Regions from separate parts of the Homo sapiens genome. Here region 1 is linked to region 2. The links come from fine-mapping of genetic effects on gene expression. A gene starts in region 2. The other region holds a variant in brackets. All regions are shown on one strand. Distances are between the middles of the regions.

The links.
Region 1: its variant is fine-mapped to the expression of CDHR2 in anterior cingulate cortex (GTEx, PIP 0.95).

Annotation. Positions count from the first base shown.
Region 1 is chr5:176,600,593-176,609,908 of GRCh38, reverse strand. The region is part of intron 1 of GPRIN1 (G protein regulated inducer of neurite outgrowth 1); the gene reads left to right. Among named protein-coding and RNA genes, the nearest start is that of GPRIN1, 4.9 kb to the left of the region's middle. RefSeq lists silencers at 1-52, 113-172. The variant C/G (reference allele first, on the strand shown) is at 6,166.
Region 2 is chr5:176,545,316-176,556,482 of GRCh38, reverse strand. It overlaps CDHR2 (cadherin related family member 2), which reads right to left and starts at 7,141. Exons shown (of 32, transcript NM_017675.6): 1 at 7,069-7,141. It also overlaps the pseudogene RN7SL684P. RefSeq lists enhancers at 3,654-4,287, 5,936-6,869.

The sequences.
Region 1 (9,316 bases), 54 kb before region 2:
GTCCTCGAAGCCCCCCGGCGGCGGGGCTCGGACACCTCGCGCGGCATGAGCCCGGGTGTGTGCGCGCGGCTGGGGGCGGTGGGTGTCTGTTTCCAGGCTCCTCGCCGGGGCGGGGCGGGGCGGGGCGGGGCGGGGGCGGGTCCCGCAGCCCTGGGCCGAACATCAGAGGGGCCCGGCGGGCCAGGCTGACCTGGCTGTGGGGTCGGCCCCGCGCCCGGCCTTGCCGCCGCCCGCTGGCTTTGTTCGGCATGGCCGCGCGGGAGGGGGTGCTTCCCGCCACTGGGGGGAGGGCGTCCTCCCGCGTTGATTCATCTTCCCCGGAGCGAGCTCAACGCTCCACTGGCTCCACTCGCACTACTGAGCACACTCGCCGTCACACAACCAGTGTGGCACACACTCCGGGGCGCGATCACACAACACCGCGTTCACGCACGGGCGCCTCATTTCCTCGAGTGAGGCCACAGGTCTACCGCACACACACAATGGCTGTTGGTCATTCCATTAGACTCATACACACGGCCACCTGTCACCCAGGGTACTGGGTGGGAGCCTTGCGTACACACCCAGGCACAGCTACGCACTCAAACCAGCCATCGCGGATCACAGCATGGACATCAACTCAACAATACTCCCTGATCACAACACACTCGGGGCCACCCTGCCCTGGCCTGCTCACCCCTGCTCATGGGGTCCCTTGCGTACCCAGATACCCTGGAGTAGACTGCCACCCTTGTGCACACACTCCCTCTTACACACACACTCTGTCTCTTAGCGTGCTGCCCACTCCCACCCACACTGGCCCACGTTTGCACGTCCATGAACGTCCATTCTTGCCCTCCTATGTATGTATGTATGCATGGTCTGAGGGCCGTTTCTGGAAGCAGGTCTGGCTAACACCTTTAGATTCCTTCTCCCCCCACACCCCCGAGCAGGAGACTTCGCTGCTCTGAGGGCACTACGAGAGAAGGGGACGAGGGGCAGCAGACTGAGATTCTCAGACACACTCAGATGCCTGACGAAGTCCCTCAAGCCTTTGTTGGTCTTGTCAGCACAGAAGAGGTATTTGCAGGTGCTTGGCAGTTCTGGCCCTGTTTATGGGTGTAAGGATAGCTCCATGCTGGAAAGAAATCCTAGAGGGAAAGGAATGGCTGGCCAGGTCTCTGTGGCCTGAATGGGCAGCCACAGGGGCTGCTGCTCTCCCTGGGAGCAGGACACAGGCACCTGTGCAACACCCAGATAAGCTCTCCTAGGAGTGAGATACCCACAGGGTCCAAGTAGCCCCCACGAGGCACAAACACACAGGCCATTCTGCACATGCAGGGTGTACATACGCACAACAAGCTCTTCTTGAGCAGAACACAGGAGCCAGGTCCTGGCCCCAGAGTGGCCCAAGCTGGTACATACATCCACAAGCAGTCTGTTCACTCCTTTGCATGCCAGGTGAGCCCGCCTACATACCTAGCAGACATTTCTGCCTTCTGCCTCAGTCAGGCCACACTCAACCTGTTTGTGCCCAAGTGTACAGGCTCATCTGCTCATAGGGTGTGTGCGTTCCCACAGGTGGGGGAATGTATGCAGGGGGAGGGGAGCTCTTGCTTCTTCTACTGCATGCTCCTTGGCACTGTTGCTTGGGAGGAACCTTGGCCTGACCTCAAAAACCAGAAAGGGGGTTTTGAGAACCAAGTGTCAGGCCAGGTGCAGTGGCTCATACCTGTAATCCCAATACTTTGAGAAGCCCAGGCAGGAGGATTGCTTGAGGCCAGGAATTTGAGACAAGCTTGGGCAACATACCAAGACCCCCATCTCTACAAAAATTTAAAGATTAGCTGGGTGTGATGGCGCATGCCTATAGCTACTTAGGAGTCTGATGAGGGAAGATTGCTTGAGCTGAGGAGTTGGAGGCTACAGGGAGGTATGATTGTGTCACTGCACTCTAGCCTGGGTAACAGAGTGAGACCCTGTCTTCAGAAAAAAAAAAAAAAAAAAAAAAAAAAAAAAAAAAAAAGAGCCAAGTGTCAGTGTCCACGATCTTAGAAAGAACTCAGGTTTTGTGCTTGGGCACAACTGGCTTTGAGCTACAGCCTTCCCTCAGTTGTGTGCCCTTGGTCAAGTCTTGACCAAGTTGTGTGCCCCAGTTGTGTGCCCCAGTTGTGTGCCCTTGGTCAAGTCTTCTCCCTCTGACTTCAGTGGCCTCATCTGTGAAATGGGATGATAATGCCCCCCTCATGAGATTGTTGTGGGATCCAGATGATAAAAAGAGACTGAGACCGGGTGCAGTGGCTCATGCCTGTAATCCCAACACTTTGAGAGGCCGAGGTGGGTGGATCACTTGAGGCCAGGAGTTCAAGACCAGCCTAAACAACATGGTGAAACCCTGTCTCTACAAAAAATACAAAAATTAGCCAGGTGTCGTGGCACATGCCTGTAATCCCAGCTACTCGGGAGGCTGAGGCAGGAGAATCACTTGAACCTGGAAGGTGGAGATTGCAGTGAGCCGAGATCATGCCACTGCACTCCGGCCTAGGCAACAAAACAAGACTCGGTCTCAAAAAAAGAAAGACAGTGAGCGTGCTGGGCCCAGGTAATGGAGCTGGGTTCTAGTGGGGTAGTTGCGGGGAGAGAATGTGGGGCCTCAGGCCTGGGCTGCCTCTCAGAGAAGCAGCTCGAGGATCCTCAGGCCTCCCCAAGATCCAGGAAGGGCCCAGCAGAACTGTGAGCAGTAGAGCCTCTGGGAGTGGTCTTGGGGCAGTTCTGAAACCCAGGGCTGGCCTATCTCTTCCAGATGTAACTACATCCCCTCTCCCATTTCACAGATTGGAAAACTGAGACCCACGGAGTAGAAAAACTCACTCAGAGTCATAGAGGATGTCAATGACTAAGCTGGGGCTTGACCCCACATCTTTCTACCTCCCTGACCAGGCTCTCTGTCCCTACCCTGGACTTTATCCCATCTCAGAGGCTGGAAAATACAAGTTGGGGACGGGAAGCCTGGGGACTTTCAGAAGGGGCATGTTATCAGCTGAGCCAAGCTTGCCTCTTAGAACCTGTTTCTTCCTCTGGAAAACAGGACTACAACAGCTGCCTGGCAGGCGGGTGGGATTTGCACATAGTAAGGGCTCGACTTGTACAAGGTCACCTCTGCCTTTCATGGCATTGTGCTCCAGGGTCCACACTCAGGTGGCTACAGGCCAGGAGGGTAACATACATGAAGGGCCGGCTGTGAGAAAAACGACAGTGAGAATTCCATGATTGATGGCAGCAGACAGTCAGCCTCAGTGTCTAGGACACCGTGGGGAAGAGGGGGGATTGTGGCTGATTGGAGAGTACACCCCCATCTAAGGAGGCTGTCCCTTTGGGGCTCCAGCTGAATGTTGCCAGGCAGGAAGCACGCTCAGACTGCCAAATTTTAGTTTTCCAAGAGAAGCTGGAAATCTTACTGTCACATGAAATCTTCTAATGTTTAGAAGTTGATCGGTTAATTCCTTTTTAAAACTGATTTTAAAATGTGTTTAGCTCTGTGGGTCAAACAAGCCTGTCTGAGGGTCAGGTTTTGCTGGTTTGTGTCCCTGCTGCAGACCCTTTCCTCCCCTGCCCCCTCCTGGGAGCACAGCTGGGCTCTGACAGGCTGAGCAGATAAAAACAGGCCTTCCACAGACACAGCCCAGCCCTAAAGTGAGCAGAGTCAGGCACACCCCTCATTTTCTTTAATTCTCACTATAGCCCTGGGGGAGCAGGAGGTGGGTTCTTCAGGGTCCCCAAGGAGGAGAAGGGCGTTGCTTGAAGTCACAGAGCTGATAAGCGGTGGGCTGGCCTGACTTTCTGCCCGGGCTGCACCCAGGGAGAGGAGCTTATTGGCTGGGCTGGTGTGTGAGGACCCCAGGGCTGGGCTTCCAGGGCTGAAATGAGGGGTAGTGAGGGCCCAGAGCACCCTTCCTATATCCTTTGCTGACTCCTTCCAGCTCCAGCTAAACTCCCTGTACACCAGCCAGGCAGCTGTTGAATTCCTGTTTTCCAGAGAAGGAAACAGGCAGGCATGGTAGGCAGATCCTGGCCCTCACTGGAGCCTGGGCCCTTTCTCTCTCTCCCTGTCTCTGTTTTAAAGACAGTTTCTTGTTCTGTTACCCAGGCTGATCATAGCTCACTGCAGCCTCAAACTCCTGGACTCAAGAGATCCTCCTGCCTCAGCCTCTGGAGCAGGCAGGACTATAAGTACATGCCACCACACCTGGCTAATTTCTTTTTTTTTTTTAATTTTAATTTAAAGTTTTTGTAGAGACGGGATCTTGCCGTGTTGCCCATGCTGATCTGGAACTCCTGGCCTCAAGCAGTCATCCCACCTTGACTTCCCAAAGCACTGGGATTACAGCCGCGGAACTCCGCCCCAGGGCCCTTTCCCTTGACCATCTTCCCGGTCACCCTGGCTTATAACGTCCTTTTCCATAGGCCAAGGGCCAGATGGATCAGAGGTTGCAAGCTGGTGACCTAGGGGTCAAAGTTGGCTCATGAAAGTGTTTTGGCCGGGCATGGTGGACCATGCCTGTAATCGCAGCACTTTGGGAGGCCAAGGCAGCCAGTCACTTGAGGCCAGAAGTTCGAGACCACCCTGGCCAACACGGTGAAACTCTGTCTCTAGTAAAAATTTAAAAAATTAGCTGGGCATGGTGATGTGCGCCTGTAGCCCCAGCTACTCGGGTGGCTGAGGTACGAGAATTGCTTGAACCCGGGAGGCAGAGGTTGCAGTGAGCTGAGATTGTACCACTGCACTCCAGCCTGGGTGACAGAGTAAGACTCTGTCTCAAAAAAAAAAAAAAAAAGTGTTTTGTTTAGCCTGTATGATATTTTTTAAATTAGCCAATATTTAAAACATGGATATCCATGCTGGGCGCGGTAGCTCATGTCTGTAATCCCAGCACTTTGGGAGGCCAAGGTAGGCAAATCACCTGAGGTCAGGAGTTCGAGACCAGCCTGACCAACATGGAGAAACCCTGTCCCTACTAAAAATACAAAATTAGCTGGGCATGGTGGCGCATGCCTGTAATCCCAGCTACTTGGGAGGCTGAGGCAGGAGAATCACTTGAACCTGGGAGGCAGAGGTTGCAATGAGCCAAGATAGCACCATTGCACTCCAGCCTGGACAACAAGAGCAAAACTCTGTCTCAATAAATAAATAAATAAAATACAGATATCCAGATTTATGACTTAGCTAAAAAAAAATTTAGGAAACCTGGAGGCACAGCGGCCACATTCACTTCCCTGCTTAAATACTTCCAAGGGGCGGGATACAGTGGCTCACTAGGCGCTAGGTATAATCCTATTGTAGACACGAGATCCTGCTATGTTGCCCATGCTGGTCTGGAACTCTTGGCCTCAAGAGATCAAGGTATAATCCTATTACATTGAGAGGCTGGGGTGGGAGGATCACTTGAGCCCAGGAGGTCAAGGCTGCAGTGAGCCGAGATCGCGCCACTGCACTCCAGCCTGGGCAACAGAGTGAGACATTGTCTCAAATAAAAAGAAAATACTTCCAGGGTTTCCAGTGCCCTTAGGCTAAACCCCCCTCCTCCACCATGCCTCATGTGATTTGCTGCCTCCTCTTCCGCTGCCACCCCCTTTCCGACTCCACTCCAGCTCTTCATGGCTGGCTCAGATGGTAACTGCCTCAGAGGGGCCTTTCTTGACCACATGTCTAAACCAGCTGCCCACTCCTTTGTCTTCACAGCATCCATTATTTGAAATACTATGATTTATTTGCCACTTGTTTATTTCTCTCCTCCCAATCTTTCTGCATCTATAAGGCAGGGACCCCACATTTCTTATTCACTGCTGTATCCCCAGTCCCAAGAATAATGCCTAGAACATTGCCTGTGTGCTCAGTAAATGCTGAGTTAATGGAATGATTCCTAATTGGCCACAGCTGGCAGGAATTGAGTGCCGTTGCCCCTTTAGAAGGGGCCAGTGCCCTCTAGTTTGCCACAGTCCCCACCACTCCCTCTTGTCTCCCTCAGTCTGGGGATGTCAGGAGTCTTTCATCATCTCCCTTGTAGGAGAAAACAAATATTTGTGCCCATATCACTATCAAAAGGCCAAAGATGAAGATGGACTCAATTCACGCCACTCAAATCTGATGCCTGCCTGACCCCTGCAGGCTGGTGACCATCCAGTGAT[C/G]CCACGAATTCCAACCAGACCTCTCCCGTGCTTCTGGCCTGCTTCCTACTGCCTCCTGGATGTCACCCCCCATAAGTCCCATGGGCACTCCAGTTCCACTTCCGAAACCCAGTGCCCCATGATCCTCTGCAAAACTGTTCCTCTTCCTGTGTTCCCTCTTAGTGATGGTCCCCCTCCCCCACCTCATAAGCCAGAGCCTGAGGGACCCAGTAGTGAACAGTATCGACTGTGTCCCCATCCAGAGACCTGAGGTCTGGCCAGGGACCCAGAGGTGTAAATGGCCAGATGCAGAGTGACATGAGCCTTGTTAGAGGAGGAACGAGAGGCTACAGGAATCCCCAGGAAGCTGGTAGCCAAACAAGGCCCACTAGAGGAGGAGGTGTTTTAACGGAGATCTGAAGGTGTAATAAGAGACAGCCAGGCAAGAAGGGAGGGAGAGATTCCTCCAGAAGAGGGTGTGTAGAGGCTGAGATGGTGGGGGAGAGAGAGAGTGTGTATCTGTGTGTGTACATGTTTTGGGGGTGGGAGTGGGTAATGAAAGATAAATCCCAGCACTTAAGTAGAAACATAGGGGCTTAGGAGCATATTAAAGAGCTGGACTTTACCCCAAAGGTAAGAGTGAGTCATTAAAGGTTTCTCTTTATTGTCCATTGGAAAAAAAAAGGACTATGTGCGCACATAACCACAATTTAAACATCACAAAGGGGCGCACAAAGAAAAGCTTCTCCCACCCTCAGATCCCCGCTCTTCCTTCTGAGAGGCAGTCACTGCTAAAAGTTTTATAGGATTCCATCCAGAAATTCTCTTTATAAATAAACCCATCCATGTGTGTCCTTTTCCTTGGCTACACGCGTGGGATCCCAGTAGCGATGCTGTCCCCTGGCCTTTTTCAATTAATTTATCTTGGGTGCTTTCCCTCATTACCCCACACCTTCTAGTAGCTGCCCGGTGCTCTGCGTGGTTGTCCCACAGTTCACAGAACCTGCCTCCCCGTCTTGTTCTCATCACTAGCCATGCCCTTGTGTACCCCAGGACCATCTTCAGGACCCCAGGTCTATCTTTAGGACCATGCTTAGAGGTGGGCTTGGTGGCTCAAATGCTATGCGCGTTGTAAACTTTGATAGAAATTGATAAATGTCCTTCTAAAAAGATTACAACTAATTTACATTTCCGGCAAGAATGAGGAGGGTTTTGAGCCAAGGAGGGCACAGGTGGCTCTGCATCTTAGGTCATTCAGTCATTCATGGAACAAATCCGTATGAGGATCTTCCTTGCTTACTGCATGTGTGCCAGGTCTCAACTCTGGGATATATCAGATAGCACAGCAAAGTCCCCACCTCCTGGAGCTGGCATTTTAATGAGAGCAACACACCACAAGCAATAAGCGAATATATGTGATATGTCAGATGGTGACAGGTACTATGGAGGAAAACTGATTAGAATAAGAGGGTGGAGAATGCCAGCCAGAGCTGGGGAGGAGGCTGTTTTACATTGCATGGGTCAGGGAAAGCCTTGGGGAGCCGACCATGCAGATATTTGGAGAGAAATCTCTCCATGCAGAAGAAGCAGGCAGCGCCAAGGCATGGAGGCAGGCGTGTTCAAGGCACAGCAAGGCGCACAGCGAGGCACCCCGCGTGGCTGAAGCAGCGTGAGGGAGAGGGAGAGCAGCAGCAGAAAGGGCAGAGGAGGTGACGGGGCCTGAAGATGCAGGGGCTTCTGAGCCATTCTAAGGAGTTTACTTTTACTTTGCATGGGATGGGGAGACACTGCCTGGTTCCGAGCAGAGGGGTACATGATTTGTCTCGGGTTTTACTAAGATCCCTCTGGCTGCTGTGTTGAGAATAAGCTATGGGACAAAGGAAAAGGCAGGGATAATCCAGGTGAGAGATGGTGGGGGGTCCAGATGGCAGTAGCCAGATGCTGGATATATTCTGATGGTAACTCCATTATGTTTTGCTGATAGACGTGGGGTGTGAAAGTCAAGGGTGATTAGGGATTTGGGCCTGAGCATTAAAGCCATGGTTTTGGAGCAGGTTTGAGGGGATCAGGAGCTCTATTTGCTTTGGCTACTGAGTGTGTAACGGAACGGGGTTGCTTGTAGGCCCAGCTGCCTGCTGGACCCTCTTCTTGGATATCCCCCAGGCACTACAAACTCAGCTTGTCCAAAAACGGATCTCCCTCTTTCCTACATCTCCTGCTCAGCACCATCACCCAGCAGCCCTCACCCTAGCCAGTACCCTGCAGACCGCCCCTGCCATTACCAGTACAGCCTGTTGGTACCTGTCAGTTTTCCTTTGGATTTCTCAATTCTGCCTTTAACTACCATCTCCAGGACCTCTGCTGTGCTGTCTCTCATCGAGATTCCTGCAACTGCTCAGGGCCTGTTGCAGAGAAGGGGCTAGGTGAATGAATGAAGGATTAAATGGATGAAAGATTAAATGAATGATTTACCAGCTTCCTCACAGGTCTTGGCCAACCCCTGTGCTCCTTCAGCCCAGCCTCCATACCATCCCAGAGGAATCTTTGAAAACACACACATCTGACTATGTCCCTTCCTTGACTATAAACCATTCACAGCTCTCCAGGGCCTACATAGACATAAACTGGTGGCCTACAGGCAAGTCTTGTTTGGCCCACATAATGTTTGGGTTTTTTTTTTTTAAACCTTTAATTAATTAGCATATTTTACATTAAAGTCTGGATTTCCCACTTAAGCAACTGGAAGAACTGGGACCACCAGGTTGCATTTCTCCAGGATAGCACTTGGCTGATGGGAGTAGTGGTTCTCCCTTTATTATTTTTATTAATTTTTGTTTTTGTTTATTTTTGAGATGGAGTCTTGCTCTGTTGCCCAGGCTGGAGTGCAGTGGCACGATCTTGGCTCACTGCAACCTCTGCCTCTCAGGTTCAAGCAATTCTCCTGCCTCGGCCTCCTGAGTAGCTGGGATTACAGGCGTGCACCACCACACCTGGCTAATTTTTTTGTATATTTAGTAGAGAGGGGGTTACACCATGTTGGCCAGGGGGGTCTTGAACTCCTGACCTCTAGTGATCCGTCAGCCTCAGCCTCCCAAAGTGCTGGGATTACAGGCGTGAGCCGCCGCACCCGGCCATCCCTTTAGACAGAGCATGTGCTCTCTAATTTGCCATA
Region 2 (11,167 bases):
ATGTTAGCCGGGATGGTCTCGATCTCCTGACCTTGTGATCCGCCCGCCTCGGCCTCCCAAAGTGCTGGGATTACAGGCGTGAGCCACCGCGCCCGGCCTGTTTAGGTGTTTCTTGAGACAAGGTCTTGCTCTGTCACCCATTCTGGAGTGCAATGGCGCTATCCTGGCTCAGGGCAGCCTCAGACTCCTGGGCTCAAGCGATCCTCCCATCTCGGCCTCCTAAAGTGATGAGATTACAGGTGTGAGCCACCGTGACTGGCCTATTTGATATTTTTAAAAATTAAATGCCCATATTGCTGTGATAAGGTGAGCACTGTTATGCGGGAGTCCCAAGTAGCACAAACAATATGAGAGATGGCCTGGGCCAGGGAAGAACCAGGTGTATTCCAGGAGTTCAAAGAAGGTCCCTGTGGCTGGGTTGCAGGGAGAGAGGTGGGGAATCATGGGAGGGAGGCAGGTTGAGAAATCTGGCAGGGCCAGAGCATGCTCCACCCTATGAGACACAGGAAGGATGTTTCATTTTATTCTAAGAAAAACAAAAAACAGTAGGTCATTTCAGAGGGGGTTTTTTTTGTTTGTTTTGAGATGGAGTCTTACTCTGTCTCCCAGGCTGGAGGGCAGTGGGGCGATCTCGGCTCACTGCAACCTCTGCCTCCCGGGTTCAACCGAGTCTGCTGCCTCAGCCTCCCGAAGGATTACAGGCGTGAGCCACCACACCTAGCTAATTTTTTTATTTTTAGTAGAGATGGGGTTTTGCCATGTTGGCCAGGCTGGTCTCGAACTCCTGACCTCAGGTGATCCACCCACCTCGGCCTCCCAAAGTGCTGGGATTACAGGCGTGAGCCATCCACTGCACTTGGCCCATTTCAGAGTTTTAAGCAGGGGAGTGGCAGGCAGTAATTTCCTCTTAAGACCTTTCTGGCTGCTGTGTGTCGCCGGGCTGAACTGGGGGCAGCAGGGCTGGAGGGGAGGCAAGAGCAGGGCTATAGTTTGGAGGCAGAATATTTGGGATTCATAGAATTTCATCTTCACAGCAACTCATTTTGCAGATGAGCAAACAGGCTCTTGCTGGGAGTGTTCCGCTGAGGCCCTCACAGCTGAAAGTGAGTGGGATTCACAGCCACTCTCCGATCCCAAGGCCCTCGCCTCTCCCTGAGGCAGGGAGAAGGAGGCAGGCCTCCCGTGGCCCCAGGGCCCTAGCAAGAGGAGAAAACCCCAGTTCAGATGTGGACCCCAAAGCTTCAAAATGTTTGCCCTGTTGACCTACTCATCCAACTAACATAGAATAAGAAGCTCTTTTTGCAGAAAGTTGTTGACCGTGAGTGATTATTTATAATCATGGGAAGCTGGAAGTGACCGTAACATGAAACACAGGCAATGATGTAGAAAGATGTGGACAAGCCCTGGGTGGGATGTTTGGCAACCGTTAAACATTACAGCAATGAATAGCAAGAGACTCGTGGAGGAAGCACCTCCTGCCTCTCAGAACTTGAGCCGGGCACTACGTAATGCTCACAAAATCCCTTCGAGGCTGGGTGTGGTGGCTCACACCTGTAATCCCAGCACTTTGGGAGGCCAAGGCGGGCAGATCACTTGAGGTCAGGAGTTCAAGACCAGCTTGGCCAACATGGTGAAACCCCGTCTCTACTAAAAATACAATAATTAGCTGGGTGTGGTGGCACGTGCCTGTAATCCTCAGGAGGCTGAGGCCAGAGAATGGTGTGAACCCGGGAGGTGGAGGTTGCAGTGAGCCGAGATCGTGCCACTGCACTCCAGCCTGGGAGACAGAGCGAGACACTGTCTCCAAAACAAAACAAAACAAAAACAAAAACAAAAAACCCTTCTAGATTGGTACCATTCTACCCACTTTACAGATGGGGAAAACAAAGCTCAGAGAGGTGAAGAGCCTGGCTTGAGTTTACAGAGTCAAGGAGCAGCAGAGCTTCGCTGGGCAGTTCACTGCCCTTCTCTAAGCGTTCCCTCCCCTGTGAGAATAATAACCCCACTAAGTGATGAGGGTAGGCAGCGGGGGATGAGTGGGAATAAGAATGTGCCACCTCAGCGCCTGGCACACAATAGGCGCTCAGCAAGTGCAAACCTTCTTCCTTCCGTGGGGTTGTCCTCACCTTATGGCTGCTCCTCCCACTGCAATCACCATGGAAACAGCTTCCTCCCTCCCTGGTGACCATCCACGCTCCCCAGGGTCTGAGACTGCTTGCAGAGGTCAGAGCTAAATGGGCAGGGCCAGGGCTGTGTGTGGAGGAGCCCTGGGGCTGTTTCTCATGCTACCTTCCATGTGACTCTAGCCAGGGGAACCTTGGGAAGTTGCTGTGGAAAATGCTGGCTTGCCAAGAACCCCGGAGATGACAGCTGGGGACAGCCCACATGCTGAACGGCAGGGCTGCACTCAGCCAGACTGATAAATACAGATGTGCCCCACCGCTCAGGGGAATTAGTAAGTTCTCAGTCCTCAGAACCCCCAGCAGTGCTGAGCCACAGTCCTCAGTGAGACAGGGACAGCGATGTGGGTACAGCTACACCCTGGAGAGTGACATCATAGCGCTGGAGTCAAGGGCAGTGAGTGAGGTGGTCATGGAGGCAGGGTCCAATATCAGGATAGGGATCCCTCGGGGGTAGGGGTGGCACTGGTGGTGGTAAGTAGGGACGGACATGCTGATGATGTGTGTGCTGATGAAGGTGGAGACGCAGGTGGCGCTGGTGGAGGTGACAGTTGGGGGAGGGAGATGGTGGTGGTGGCGGGGCTGGCGGTGGAGACGCAGGTGAGCTGGGCATTAGCGGTACTGCTAGACTGCAGGTGTCCATTGTGTAAGGAACAGCCAGGGGCTGGATGCGTCCAGCCCAGGCATCCCTCTGAGGCTGTAACCTGGAACCTACCTCCCTCCTCACTTTTTTCTCTCATGTTCTGTCCTTCAGAAATGAGTCAACTGCCACGGGACAATTAGTCACTAGGTGTGCAGCCAGCAGGTATCAAGATGGATTCATCATCATTACAAAGTTCCCCTGGGTCCAGCCTGCAGGACAGGAGATTCCTGCCCTCAGGGTCCCTCCTCCCAGTCCCAGAGGAAAATGGGAACTGGCAAGGAAGGGCCGTGTACCGAGGCTAGCACTTTGCCCCCATTACCATTTAGTCCTCAGCAAACTGACGTCCAAGAGGGGAAAGGGCGCGGCCCAGCCAGTAATGGGCAGAACCCAAGCCAGGCCTGTGCCTTCTCTCTTTTCTAGGCTCCTGGGTTTTCCTTCTTGAGCTGCCCGATTTTCCCACAGGTCATGCTGAGCCCACAAACATGTGATGTTGAGAGAGAACAGCCCGAACCAGGACCTTCACCCAGTCCCCGAGGCGCCTCCCCCTACAGCCCCTTCCCCATACACGCCACGCTTCTCCCTCATGGAAGTGTCTCCCAACTCCCCCCTCCCCATCTCACAGGGCAGGATGGAGGGCCTCAAGAAGCCTGGGGACCCTCACTCAGAGCAACAGCGATGCCCCTTTGCATTTGTGTGATGCACGCACAGTCTCTCCCCTGCATGTGGGCCCAGCCATCCCCCTGGAAGGAAGAGCTGGATTCATCAATCCCCTTTATGCACACAGACATGAGTGCAGGAGGCCAGGGTTCCTGCCCAGCAGCTCCAAGGCTGTCAGCGGCAGAGTGGGGGTGCCACCCTGTCTGCCTCCCAGGCCAGTGCTCTTTCTTGCCTCATCCCTGCCTCGCCTGCCTCCTGCTCTGCTGGGGTTGGCCCCGGGTTTCTCGCAGTCCTGCCTCCTCATGATCATGATGAGGCTGGCGTTCTACAGTCCAGAGCATCTGCCTCTGGATTCAGTCACTTGGGGAAAAAGCACAGTGTCTGTGTGGGCTGGCGAAGGCGCAATAACGGCCTGCCCCAATGCTAAGCCTTCCCCATGATAGGTCACTCCCAAGCTCAAATCTCCTCCATGGCTCCCACTGGCTGCAGGACACACTGCCTGCCCCTCAGCCTGACAGGCGAGGTCCTTGGAGGTCCTGGGTCTTGCTTTTTCCACACGAGCTGCTCTCTCCCACTCCTGAGGTCCAGTGGTGTTGAATGCTCCTGTTCTCGGTCCACACCCTGCATTGTCCTTCCTCCATTTGCCTAAACCATTCCCTCTGCCCAGAATGTCTTTCTTTGCCTTCTGCCTACATGCAAATCCTCTCCATTCTGTAAGGCCCAGATCAGCTGTGGAGCTGTGTTCAGGCAGTTGGTGGCCCCCACTCTGGGCTCCTCATTTCCTGGTACCCCAGCAAGGGGCAGGAGCAAGGCACAAATGGAAACCGAGTGAATGGAGTTGCCCCTGGGCTGGGACTTGCGGACAGGCACCCGCTTTTCCCTGCTGGGGCAGCCTCAGGCCAACGCATGGGTGTGAAACAAGGTCCCAGTCACTGCACAACCGTACCCCTGGGCTCTTTTCTCTGTTTGCTCCTTTTAAAAATGGGAACTATTAACCGGGCGCGGTGACTCACGCCTGTAATCCCAGCACTTTGGCGGGCCGATTACGGGGTCGGGGTCAGGAGATCGAGACCATCCTGGCTAACATGGTGAAACGCCGTCTCTACTAAAAGTTCCCCAAAAAAAAAAAAAATATTAGCCAGGCGTGGTGGCGGGCGCCTGTAGTCCCAGCTACTTGGAAGGCTGAGGCAGGAGAATGGCGTGAACCCGGGAAGCGGAGCTTGCAGTGAGCCGAGATGCCGCTACTGCACTCCAGCTTGGGTGACAGAGCGAGACTCTGTCTCAAAAAAAAAAAAAAAAAAGAGAACTCTTGGCTAGGTGTGGTGGCAGTCCAGGCCAATACCAATAGTTCTCATTTTTTAAAGGAGCAAACACAGTCCAGCACTTTGGGAGGCTAGAGTGGGAGGATCACTTGAGCCCAGAAGGTTGAGGCTGCAGTGAGCCGAGATCGCGCCACTGCACGCCAGCCTGGGCGACAGAGCAAGACCTTGTCTCAAAAAATAAAAATAAAATAAAGTAATTTAAAATGGGGACTATCTATATTCCAGAAATTACTGCTTCCTTGTTCTCAAGCCCTCCGGCCACTACTGTTGTTTCCCTGCTCTCAAAAAATGCCTGGACCAGCCTGACCAACATGGTGAAACCCTGTCTCTACTAAAAATACAAAAATTAGCCAGGCATGGTGGCGCACACCTGTAATCCCAGCTATTCGGGAGGCTGAGGCAGGAGAATCACTTGAACCAAGGAGGCAGAGGTTGTGGTGAACTGAGATCGCACCACTGCACTGGAGCCTGGGCGACAAGCAAGACTCCATCTCACAAAAAAAAATTAGCCAGACGTGGTGGCGTGCACCTGTAATCCTAGCTAGTCAGGAGGCTGAGGCAGGAGAATCGTTTGAACCAGGGAGGCACAGGTTGCAGTGAGCCGAGATAGCGCCTTGCACTCCAGCCTGGGCAACAGAGTGAGAATCCGTCTCAAAAAGAAAGTGCTTAGGGAAGGACCAAAAAGGACACAGAGAAGAATCAGGGAGACTCTGGCCCCCACGCCATGAGATGTGTAGTCTCCAGGAATCCTCACTGGTCCCACCTGGCCCAGGAGGTGCCAGCTCTTCAGCCTTGGCTGAGAGGAGGCTTCAGCCGCATCTCAGAGCAGTCCACGGTGCCAAGATTTTCTAGAATTTGGAACCACTGGGAGTGAGGATACCCGGACTGCCCAGGACCTCCAGGAGGGTCAGGGTGGGGAGGTGGGTCCTCCTTCAGTGTGGGGAGCCCCCGGGGTGCACTCAGCCACGATGCTACAGAGCTCCCCCAGCACCGCCACCGCTACACGGCCAGCTCGCCATGCACTTTCACTTCTGCTTTTTCATTTACTTCTCACAGCTGTTCCCAAGCAGGAATTATCCTATCCTATTATTCCAAGGAAACCGAGGCTCATAGATGCCCAGAGATGGGTGAGCCAGGGGCAGCAGGTTAGACCCAGGCTGCCTCCAAATCCAGGGGTCCCTGGGCAAGCCTTGGTCTGGGCTCCGTTGATCCAGGAGGCCGTGCCTGCACCCACAGAGCGGACTCCAGCCGAGCCTGGGTGCCCGGAGCAAGGATGTGGGACCTGAGCACGCAGCTCCCCGCCACGGGCCCTCCCAGTGCCTATGGCCCAGGCCACCTGGCCCAGCAGACACATACAGACTCAAACAGCCCTGGGTTCAGATGGCAGCATTTCACATATTTGTTGTGCAACCCCAGGCAAGCCCTCTCCCCTCTCCAGGCCTCAGTTTCCCCTGCTGAGAAGCAGAGTGAGGATAAAAATCAAGGGGTCTACACACGGGCCATGACTTGTTTCCATCTGCCGGACCTCGGTGCTCACTGGGACCCTGCCTTGTGCCTGGTGCCCAACCCAGCACAGGCCTGCCTGAGTGACGCAGCATGGCCCCGACTCTCAGCTGGGTCACCACCTCCTCTACCAGGGCAGAGAGATGTGCAAGGCCCGGACTGGGCAGAGCTGGGGCCAGCCTGGGTCAGTCCCTGCCTGACACTTCCTAGCACTGGCTGAGGTGGCACTGGGCTCGGTCATAGGCCACATGCTCACCTTTGCCTCAGGGCTTTTCAGGCCCTTTCTGGAACTCTTCTCATCCCCATTTGATAAATGAGGAAACGGAGGCCCAGAAGAGTTAAGTAGCCCACCAAGGTCAGGGTGGAGCTGGGATGTGAACCGAGCAGCTGGGGTAAGAGCCCAGGTCAGCTTCCCCGTCCTCAACCCCTGAGCATCCTATGAAGGGGTCAGGCCAGTTACCTCGTTTCCCTGGGGTGCCTGCCTCCCTTCCATCCTCTGAAGAATCATCCCTTGAGGACTTGGATGGGAAGGGGGCCATCAGCCCCCAGGGAAGGAGGTATTATTATCCCATGTTTACCAAAGAAACAGGCCTCACAGCAGGCTGGGACCTGACCCGGCTCTGCCCCATCTAGCGTGTGACTTCCCCTGCCCAGCTTCAGGGGAGACTTTTAAAGACCCCCAAGCTTGCCTTGGCTCTAGGGATCCCCCCAACCCCCACATTTCTCTGGCCCAGAGACCCCCGATGAGCTGGATAGTCCCTACCTGTGTCCCCTTCGCCACGGAGGCGGCAGGCAGGCGCCGGACAGGCGCTGGCACACAGGTGGGCACCCTCTGCGGCCTGCAGCTATGTGGCCAGCAGACTTTGGCACCATCTCCACCTCCACTGAGCAATCATTAACCCTGCCAGAGACCACACCTCCCAGGAGGGGTCGACTCCTAATGAGGCAGAGTACAGCTGGGGGCGCCGGACAGGAGGAAGGGACCAAGGCGCCAGAGCTCCTGGCGCTCCTGGGGCTGGAGGCCCACACCACAGGAGAAGGGGCCTGGCCGACCCTGAGCCCAGAGGACCTGGGAACAAGGCCCAACACTGGGGCAGGCTGGAGGCGGGGACGGTGACAGTCAGAAGGTGATGCCAGAGCCCCCGTCCCCTCCCTGCTACGAGTCTTCAGTGACAGGGGATCTGTGGACAAGTGGGGGATTGAGTCAGGAGAGGGAAGTGGTAAAACAGTGTAACAATCAAACACTGTGTGGCCAGACCAGCCCCTGTGAGGTTCTCGTGGAGGACTGGGGGCTAGCTGAGCCTGGACAACCCACTTTCGAGCCTGTTGACACTGATCTCACCCCGCATTGAGACCCTCAAAAGGCATCTGCCCGTCCCCAGGGGCTTCATCCACTCCCAAGTTGCCTTTTTTTTTTAATTATTTATTTATTTTTGAGTCAGAGTCTTGCTCTGTCACCCAGGCTGGAGTGAAGTGGCACAATCTTGGCTCACTGCAATCTCTGCTTCCTGGGTTCAAGCAATTCTCCTACCTCAGCCTCTCGAGTAACTGGGATTACAGGCGTGGGCCTCCACACCCGGCTAATTTTTTTTGTATTTTTAGTAGAAACAGGGTTTCACCATGTTGGCCAGGCTGGTCTCGAACTCCTAACCTCAGGCGATCCGCCTGCCTCGGCCTTCCAAAATGCTGGGATTACAGGGATGAGCCACGGAGCTCGGCCCCCAGGCTGGCTTTAAGCGCTGCCCGATGTGGTGGCCTCCCGAAGGGGCTCAGCCACAAGTCCTTCTTATCCTCACTTTGGCCCAGCCATCACAGTTGACACAGAAAGGGGACCCTGGGCACAACTTTCTTAAGGCACACCACTGAGTCGTCACCATTGGGTGGCCCTCTTCTTGTGGGCAGAGGACATGTCTAATTCACAATAGATATATAGTCATGCACCATATATCTGTGTTTTGGTCAACAACGAACCACACATATAATAGCGGTCCCATAAGAGTATAATATCATCTTTCATGGCACCCTTTCTGTGTTTACATGCACAAATACTTACCCCTGTGTTACAGTTGCCTGCAGCGTGCGGTACAGTCCCAGGCTGCATAGGTTAGCAGCCCAGGAGCACAGGCGGTGGTATAGAGACTGGGTGTGTAGTAGGTGGTACCGCCTAGGTTTGTGTAAGTCACTGTGTGATGTTCACACAATGACGAAATTGCCTGATGACACATTTCCCAGAAGGTGTCCCCGTTGTTAAGGGTTGTGTTGACTGTATATCAGGCAGTTGCTATAGTCAGGCATTTTAATAGTTTGCTTCCCAACTCTCCAAATGTAAAACATAGTAACAAAATTTATACGCCACCAGCATAAAAAGAAGAAACCCAGATGAAGGGAAGTCAAGTGAGAAAAATAAGGGTAATCTACGCCTGAATTGAGGCCATAAAATACTTGTCTTGAGCTGGGGGCACTGCTGTGCACCTGTAGTCCCAGCTACTTGGGAGGCTGCAGCAGTAGGATGGCTTGAGGCCAGGATTTCTGTGCTGTAGGGCACTATGCTGATGGGGTGTCCACACTAAATTCAGCACTAATATGGTGAACCCCAAGGAGCAGAGGACCACTAGGTTGCCTCAGAAAGGCTGAACCAGCCCAGGTCAGAAACAGAGCAGGTCAAACTTCAGGTGCTGATCAGTAGTGAGACTGTGCCTATGAATAGCTACTGCACTCCAGCCTAGACAACAAGAGCTTCTCTCTCAAAAAATAAACAAATTATATATATATATATATTTGCCTTCAAGTTCTGGGTAATTGTAGAGATGGGTCATGAATCAGGTTCTGAGCTTCCCCCCAGGCAAAGAAAAAAGGGAATTGAGATCCATTGAGTCCAGCATCCATCCATTTTAAAACATTTGCATAGGCTGGTGGCTCGCGCCTGTAATCCCAGCACTTTGGGAGGCTGAGGCGGGTGGATCACCAGGTCAAGAATTCGAGACCAGCCTGGCCAAAATGGTAAAACCCTGTCTCTGCTAAAAATACAAAAAATAGCTGTGCACGGTGGCAGGTGCCTGTAATCTCAGCTACTCAGGAGGCTGAGGCAGGAGATTCACTTGAACCCGGGAGGCAGAGGTTGCAGTGAGCCAAGATTGTCCCACTGCACTCTAGCCTGGGTGACAGAGCAAGACTCCATCTCAAAAAAAAAAAAAAAGACCAAAAAGACCACTTTGCGTATAGCCAGGCTCTGGGAGCTATGATGCAGTTCTGAGTTTTGATACCCAAGAGGCTTTTCCTCTTTTTGAGAAGTGTTTCTGAGGAAAGGATGCTGCAGACACTGGGTAGCGCTCGATGCGACTATTACAATGCAGGGGTTAAGAGACCAGAGACCAGGCTCCTCTGGGGTCAGACTGCTGGGTTCAATTTTTTTTTTTTTTTTTTTTTTTTTTTGAGCACCATGTTGGCCAGGCTGGTTTCAAACTCCTGACCTCAGGTGACCCACCCGTGTCGGCCTCCCAAAGTACTAGGATTACAGGTGTGAGCCGCCCTGCCCAGCCACAATTTTTAATTTCATTTTATTTTTATTATTTTTTTTATCTACTGTATATTCACAATGGGTTCAATTTTGGCAGGGCAAGTTGCATAACCTCTCTAAGACGGTTTCCTTATCTGTAAGTTGCAGGTAATACATGATGCCTACCTGGGCAGGTGATGGTGAGGATGTAATGAAGTCACCCATTTGAAGTCCTGAGCACAATGCCCAACACAATAAGGTCTCAATGAATGTTAGTTTTCGTGGGGGCATGGTGGTGACTATTGCATTACTAATATCACCTCATTTAATCCTGCCAATAACTCCAGGGATGATTTTTTTCCCCATTACAGATGGGAAAATAGACCTTAGACAGATTAGATCACCACCCGAGATTACAGAAAGTGGCAGAACTGAGATATTAGCATATCTGTGCAACAATTCTTGCCCCTGACTTTCCTGCCACAGCCGTCAGATTCCTCTCTGAAGGAAGTAGGCACTAGTCATCGCTGGTGGCTTAACCAGTAAGAAGAGAGGCAGGTGACCCCACCCAAGGCTCCAGGCTCCCCGCTCTGCCTCAGACCATGGGAGTCAGCCTGGTCGCTCTGCTGTGCCCCAAATAGGGCAGACCCCAACCCAAGCCCCTGCCCCCTCTCCCTGCCCTTACGGCTGAGGCCGACAGCTCTGAGTCACTGCTCTGGTTGACAGAGGTGTGTCCTGGCCTGCCCAGACCTTTGGACCCATCACGATGAGGCACGTGTGGCCAGATGGTGCCCTGCCCATCTCGAGGGGCACCATCCACCTGCCACAAGGCAGCCTGGGAAGCACACAGGGATCTGGGCTATGACGATCCAGGTCCAGGTCTAGGTCCAGGGTTGGCTTCACGGAGCAGCAGGCAGCCAGGCAGAGTGGGACTAAGAGCCCAGGATATGGACTCAAGTGACCTGGGTCCTAATCCCCACCACCACTTACCTGCTGGGGGCTTGGGCAAGGTACACCACCTCCCACACTATTGGTGTCCTTGTCCAAAATGGGCCTAATGCAGACTCCACCTCATAGGCCTGTTCTAAGGAGTAATGATGTAATGCATGACAGCACTTAGCACAGAGTAAGTAATGGGGTGATGTGCACGAGGCGACAGTTTAGATACACATCAGGGTTCCTTCACAGCCACTGTCTGAAGTGTGTGCCTTAAAATTTTTTTTAATCAGAAAAACTTCTCGGCCGAGTGCGGTGGCTCACGCCTGTAATCCCAACACTTTTGGGACACTGAGGCAGGCAGATCACTTCAGGCCAGGAGTCCAAGACCAGCCTGGCCAACATGGTGAAACGTAGAACATGGTGAAAC